Homo sapiens: one gene and its partner. The protein of the gene in region 1 purifies or fractionates together with the protein of each later gene. This does not show direct contact. Each region holds a gene or a part of one and is shown on either strand. Other genes may lie near its edges. The genes, in order: SPAG1 and NOPCHAP1.

The links.
Region 2: the proteins of SPAG1 (region 1) and NOPCHAP1 purify together in Homo sapiens (affinity purification with mass spectrometry, with the first as the bait; one large-scale study listed by BioGRID). This does not show direct contact.

The regions. Positions count from the first base shown.
Region 1 is NC_000008.11:100,164,783-100,168,599, reverse strand, and holds part of SPAG1 (sperm-associated antigen 1), read right to left. Parts: intron 2,787-3,817; coding exon 2,627-2,786; intron 1-2,626. UniProt on the Homo sapiens protein: May play a role in the cytoplasmic assembly of the ciliary dynein arms. May play a role in fertilization. Binds GTP and has GTPase activity.
Region 2 is NC_000012.12:105,010,013-105,013,829, reverse strand, and holds part of NOPCHAP1 (NOP protein chaperone 1), read right to left. Parts: 3' UTR 1-3,817. UniProt on the Homo sapiens protein: Client-loading PAQosome/R2TP complex cofactor that selects NOP58 to promote box C/D small nucleolar ribonucleoprotein (snoRNP) assembly. Acts as a bridge between NOP58 and the R2TP complex via RUVBL1:RUVBL2.

The DNA of each region.
Region 1 (3,817 bases):
AGTGAAGCCCTGTCTCTACAAACAATTAAAAAAAAAAAAATAGCCAGGTGTGGTGGTACACACCTGTGGTCCCAGCTACTCTGAAGGCTGAAGTGGGAGCATCGCTTGAGTCTGGGAGGTCAAGGCTGCAGCGAGCTGTGATGGTGCCACTGCACTCCAGCCTGGGCAAAAAAGCAACGTATCTGATAAAGAACAATTATTTGGCAACTCAATAAGAACACAAGGCAATTTTTTTTTAACGGGCAAAGGATGTAAAGACACCTCACAATAGAAGTTACATGAAAAGACACTCAATATCATTAGTCACTAGAGATACGCAAATTAAAACCACAATGAGATACCTGGTAGGATGGCTAAAACTAACAAAACGGACAATACTATGTGCTGACCAGGATGTAAAGCAGGTGGAAATTTTATATATTGCTGTCAGGATTGCACAATGGTACAGCCACTTTGGAAAACATTTTGGCAGTCAAAACATAGTATATTTAGGGCTCAGTATTATCTAGGTTTTAGGCATCCACTGCGGGTCTTATCAAAGGTAAGTGGGTAAACAAACTGTGGGATATTCATACAATTTCATACTACTTAGCAACTCAGAGGAGCAAACTATGGACACATGCAACAACACAGATGAATCTCAAAAGCATTATATAAGTGAAAGAAGACACACAGGAATGACAACATACTGTATGATTACATTTATATGCAAGTCTAGAAAAGGCAAAACTATGCTGACAGTTCAGTGGTTGCCAAAGGCCAGGCAGTGGGGTCTACACTGACCACAAATGGGCAAGAGAAAACTTTTAGTGGTGATGGAAATGTTCTGTATCATATACGTTTGTCAAAACTCAGTGAAATGTACACTATAAAGTTGGTAATTTATATGGAATGTAAATTTTATCTCAATAAAGCTGATTAAAAGAAATCTGTAAATATTTAAGAAGAAATTTAAGTGACAGATTCATGAAAAATAACTCAACTTTTCTAGCAATCAAAAAATATACTACAATAGTCCTCCCCTTATCTGTAATTTTGCTTTCTGTGGTTTCAGTTACCCACAGTCAACTGCCATCCAAAAATAGGTGAGTACAATACAGTAAGATATTTTGAGAGAAAGAGAGCTCATATTCACATAACTCTTACAACAGTATGCTGTTATAATTGTTCTGTTTTTTATTGTTAATCTCTTAGTGTGCCTAATTTATAAGTTAAACTTTATCATAGATATGCATATAGAGGAAAAAGCATGGTATATTTAGGCTTCAGTACTATTTGCAGTTTTAGGCATCTACTGGGGGTCTTGGAAAGTATGCCCCAAAGATAAGAAGGGACTATGGTACTACCATTTTTTCAACTATTTAATTGACTAAAAATGATTACAGTATCCAGCAAAGAGTACCTAAAAATGGGCATTTTGTTTGTTTGTTTTTGTTTTTTTTAATAAAGAAACCAGGTCTCTCTGTATTGTCTAGGCTGGCCTTGAACTCTTGGGTTCAAGCAATCCTCCCTGAGTAACTGGGACTATAGGCACACACCACTGCACCTGGCTTGGGCATTCTTATACACTGTTGGGGGTGGTGTATGAAGGTACAACTTTTCTGAGAACATATGTTTGAAAAGGCTTAAAAATATTCAAATCCTTTGATCAAACAATTTAAATTCTTTTTCTCTTTCTCTTGCTTTTTGTTTTTAGACAGGGTCTCACTCTGTCACCCAGGCCGGAGTGCAATGACACCATCACAGCTCACGGCAGCCTCGGTCTCTCAGGATAAAGCGATCCTCCTGTCTCAGCCTCCTGAATGGCTGGGATTACAGACACATGCCACCACGTCCAGCTAATTTTTATATTTTTGTAGAGACAGCTCTACCTATGTTGCCCAGGCTGGTCTCAAACTCCTGGCCTGAAGTGATCCTTCTGCCTCAGCCTCCCAAAGTGCTGGGATTACAGGTGGTGTGAGCAACCACATCTGACCAAGCAATTTGAATTATAATAATTTATCCTGAGGAAATAATCAGGGAGGTGCAAAAAAATTACAAATAGGCCAGGCATGGTGGCTCACACCTGTAATCCCAGCACTTTGGGAGGCCGAGGTGGGTGGATCACCTGAGGTCAGGAGTTCGAGAAGTCTGGCCAATATGGTGAAACCCCATCTCTACTAAAAATACAAAAATTAGCCAGGCATGGTGGCATGCACCTGTAATCCCAGCTGCTCGGGAGGCTGAGGCAGGAGAATCACTTGAACCTGGGAGGCAGAGGTTGCAGTGAGCCAAGATCGTGCCACTGCACTCCAGCCTGGGCAACAAAGCAAGACTCCATCTCAAAAAAAAAAGAAAAAAAATTACAAATAAACATGTTTATACAGCACTATTTATTGAAGATGATTAAATTATAGGTTTTTTAATAGGACAGAATATTATTTAATCAATTTAAATATACACATGTACGGACGCACACACACGCGAATTCGCAATGTTCCCCTGGGTGTAAAAAGCAACCAATCCTGCCTAATTGACACTAAAAGCCCTTTACGGACAAACAAGAAGCCTAGGATTTCCGATAAGTGAAGTAAACATATATAGAATGTCTCAACAATATCTATGGAAAATTGGTATTACTATATACCTTTATATCACCATCAATTTTTTCCCATTCTTCAGCTGTAAAACTGGCTGCTGTTGCTGCTGGTTTATCTTTCCTCAAAGCTCTGCTTTCAGGGGCCAAGGCTTGAAGATGCTTTTCACAAAATTCTGTAAGTTCAGGATAATATCCTTCCTCACCAGATCTTAAAAAGAAATAAATAAGTTTTAGAGTTAGCACCTTATTTAGGATCATCTAGACCAGCGGTTTGCAGGCTGGGTTCCATGGAACCCTGAGGTTCTGTGGAGATCTCAAGGGCTGCTTCCCAGTCTCTTTCCTTAACCCGCATAGTCTCCATTTTTACCCGTTAATCTATGGAATGATTAAAAGAAGAAAAAAAGGAACTCCAAAGTAACCAATTTTCATCACACACTTTAAAAACTGGATAAGGGTGAGTGGGGCGGTGTGGTCCCCGGCACCGTGGAGGAAGTGGGGTTGCTCCGCGGAGTTGGCGTGGGTTCTGGGTTCCTCCCGGCGCCACCATGTCAAAGGTTTCCTTTAAGATCACTCTGAGGTCTGACCCGCGGCTGGCGTACAAAGTACTCTGTTCCTGAAAGTACACCTTTCACAGCAGTCTTACAGTTTGCAACAGAAGAATTTCAAGTTCCTGCTGCAAGAAGTGCAATTATTACCAATGATGGAATAGGAAAAAATCCTGCACAGACCTGCTGGAAATGTTTTTCTAAAACATGGTTCAGAACTGCGAATTATTCCTAGAGTCGTGATGGAAGTTGTTAATATCGGCTGCTTGGAACATACAATTACCTTTCAGAATAAATATTGGTATTTTTTGTTGCTGTAAAATTGAAATCAGGCATTTAACACACTATGAAAACACCAAGAGTCAATGAATAATGAGACTCATCTGTCCCTGTTTGTTGTCTGTACTCTTCATGTGAAGAGGGAATTCATATGAATTAAGGGTAATAGTGTCACAGAAGATTGCTACCTCACACACAAACAGGTAGTTCATTTGGGGTGAATGGATTCTCCAACTATTTTATAACTGGGAGCTTCTGATAATTTTTTGGAAAACATTTGAAACATTAAAACTTACTGAATCTTACATATTTGTCTGAGTTAAAAATATAAAAAGAATTATGGATCATGGATGGTAATTTGCTTGATAGCATCTGGTTTGCAGACTCATAGTTTGATTTTTAATTAAATATATAG
Region 2 (3,817 bases), on another chromosome or scaffold:
CAGAAGAAGGGTGGGGTGTTGCCTCACCTGGGAAGCACAAAGCGTTAGGGAACTCCCTCCCCTAGCCCAGGGAAGCCAAGGGAAGCCAGGGAACTCCCTCCCCTAGCCAAGGGAAGCCATGAGATACTGTGCCGTGAGGAACGGTGCACTCCGGCCCAGATACTATGCTTTTCCCACGGTCTTCACAACCCGCAGACCAGGAGATTCCCTCGGGTGCCTACACCACCAGGGCCCTGGGTTTCAAGCTCAAAGCTGGGTGGCTGTTTGGGCAAACACCGAGCTAGCTGCAGGAGTTTTTCTTCATACCCCAGTGGTGCCTGGAACACCAGCGAGACAGAACCGTTCACTCCCCTGGAAAGGGGGCTGAAGATAGAAAGCCAAGTGGTCAAGCTTAGCAAATCCCACCCCCACAGAGCCCAGCAAGCTAAGATCCACTGGCTTGAAATTCTCACTGCCAGCACAGCAGTCTGAAGTCAACGTGGGACACTTGAGCTTGGTGGGAAAAGGGGTGTCCACCACGACTGAGGCTTGAGTAGGCAGTTTTCTCCTCACAGTGTAAATAAAGCCACAGGGAAATTCAAATTGGGCAGAGCCCACCACAGTGCGGCAAAGCAGCTGTGCCTAGACTGCCTCTCTAGATTCCTCTCTGGCAGGGCATCTCTGAAAGAAAGGCAGCAGTCCCAGTCAAGGGGATTATAGATAAAAGTCCTATCTCCCTGGGACAGAACACCTGGGGGATCGGGTGGCTGTGGGCGCAGCTTCAGCAGACTTAAACATTCCTGCCTGCCAGCTCTGAAGAGAGCAGATCTCCCAGCACAGTGCTCAAGCTCTGCTAAGGGACAGACTGCCTCCTCAAGTGGGTCCTTGACCCCTATGCCTACTGACTGGGAGACACCTCCCAGCAGAGGTTGACAGAAACCTCACACAGGAGATCTCCAGCTGGCATCTAGCGGGTGACCCTCTGGGAGGAAGCTTCCAGAGGAAGGAACAGGCAGCAATTTTTGCTGTTCTGCAGCCTCTGCTGGTGATACCCAGGTAAACAGGGTCTGGAGTGGACCTCCAGCAAACTCCAGCAGACCTGCAGCAGAGGGGCCTGTTAGAGAAGGAAAACTAACAGAAAGGAATAGCATCTACATCAACAAAAAGGACGTCCACACAGAAACCCCACCCAAAGGTTACCAACATAAAAGAGCAAAGGTAGGTAAATCCAGGAAGATGAGGAAAACCCAGCGCAAAAAGGCTGAAAATTCCAAAAACCAGAACACCTCTTCTCCTCCAAAGGATCACAACTCCTCACCAGCAAGGAAACAAAACTGGACAGAGAATAAGTTTGACGAATTGACAGAAGTAGGCTTCAGAAGGCAGATAATAACAAATTCCTCCGAGCTAAAGGAGCATGTTCTAACCCAATGCAAGGAAGCTAAGAACCTTGAAAAAAGATTAGAGAAATTGCTAACTAGAATAACCAGTTGAGAGAAGAACATAAATGACCTGATGGAGCTGAAAAACACAGCCCAAGAACTTCGTGAAGCATACACAAGTATCAATGGCCTAATCGATCAAGTGGGAGAAAGGATATCAGAGATTGAAGATCAACTTAATGAAATAAAGCGTGAAGACAGATTAGAGAAAAAAGAATGAAAAGGAACAAAGCGTCCAAGAAATATGAGACTATGTGAAAAGACCTAGCCTACGTTTGATTGGTGTACCTGAAAGTGACAGGGAGAATGGAACCAAGTTGGAAAACACTCTTCAGGATATTATCCACGAGAACTTCCCCAACCTAGCAAGACAGGCCAACATTCAAATTCAGGAAATACAGAGAACACCATGAAGATATTCCTCGAGAAGAGCAACCCCAAGACACATAATCATCAGATTCACCAAGGTTGAAATGAAGGAAAAAATGTTAAGGGCAGCCAGAGAGAAAGGTTGAATTACCCAAAAAGGGAAGCCCATCAGACTAACAGTGGATCTCTCTGAAGAAACCCTACAAGCCAGAAGAGAGTGGGGGCCAATATTCAACATTCTTAAAAAGAAGAATTTTCAACCCAGAATTTCATATCCAGCCAAACTAAGCTTCATAAGCGAACGAGAAATAAAATCCTTTACAGACAAGCAAATGCTGAGAGATTTTGTCACCACCAGGCCTGCCTTACAAGAGCTCCTGAAGGCAGCACTAAATATGGAAAGGAAAAACTGGCACTAGCCACTGCAAAAACATACCAAATTGTAAGGACCATCAACACTATGAAGAAACTGCATCAATTAATGGGAAAAATAACCATCATAATGACAGGATCAAATTCGCACATAACAATATTAACCTTAAATGTAAATGGACTAAATGCCCCAATTAAAAGACACAGGATAAAGAGTCAAGATCCATCAGTCAAACTGGATAAAGAGTCAAGACCCATCAGTGTGCTGTATTCAGGAGACCCATCTCATGTGCAAAGACACACATAGGCTCAAAATAAAGGGATGGAGGAATATTTACCAAGCAAATGGAAAGCAAAAAAAAAGCAGGGGTTGCAATCCTGGTCTCCGATAAAACAGACTTTAAACCAACAAAGATCAAAAAAGACAAAGAAGGGCATTACATAATGGTAAAGGGATCAACCCAACAAGAAGAGCTAACTATCCTAAATATATATGCACCCAATACAGGAGCACACAGATTCACAAAGCAAGTTCTTAGAGACCTACAAAGAGACTTAGACTCCCACACAATAATAGTGGGAGACTTTAACACCCCACTGTCAGTATTAGATAGATCAACAAGACAGAAAATTAACAAGGCTATTCAGGACTTGAACTCAGCTCTGGACCAAGTGTGCTTAATAGACATCTACAGAACTCTCCACTCCAAATCAACAGAATATACATTCTTCTCAGCACCACATCACACTTTTTCTAAAATTGACCACATAATTGAAGTAAAACACTCCTCAGCTAAATGCAAAAGAACGGAAATCATAACAAATGGTCTCTCAGACCACAGTGCAATCAAATTAAAACTCAGGATTAAGAAATTCACTAAAAAATGCACAACTATGTGGAAACTGAACAACCTGCTCCTGAATGACTACTGGGTAAATAACGAAGTTTAGGCAGAAATAAATAAATTATTTGAAACCAATGAGAACAAAGACACAACATACCAGAATCTCTGGGACACAGCTAAAGCAGTGTTTAGAGGGAAATTTATAGCACTAAATGCCCACAGGAGAAAGCGGGAAAGATCTAAAATCGATACTCTAACATCACAATTAAAAGAACCAGAGAAGCGAGAGCAAGCAAATTCAAAAGCTAGCAGAAGACAAGAAATAACTAAGATCAGAGCAGAACTGAAGGAGATAGAGACACAAAAAACCCTTCAAAAAATCCACGAATCCAGGAGCTGGTTTTTTGAGAAGATTAACAAAATAGATAGACCACAAGCCCAATTAATAAAGAAGAAAAGAGAGAAGAATCAAACAGACACAATAAAAAATGATAAAGGGGATATCATCACTGATCCCACAGAAATACAAACCACCATCAGAGAATACTATAAACAACTCTATACAAATAACTATAAACACCTCTAGAAAATCTAGAAGAAATGGATAAATTCCTGGACACATACACTCTCCCAAGATTAAACCAGGAAAACGTTGAATCCCTGAATAGACCAATAACAAGTTCTGAAATTGAGGCAGTAACTAATAGACTACTAACCAAAAAAAGCCCAGGACCTGAAGGATTCACAGCAGAATTCTATCAGAGATACAAAAAGGAGCTGGTACCATTCCTTCTGAAACTATTCCCAACA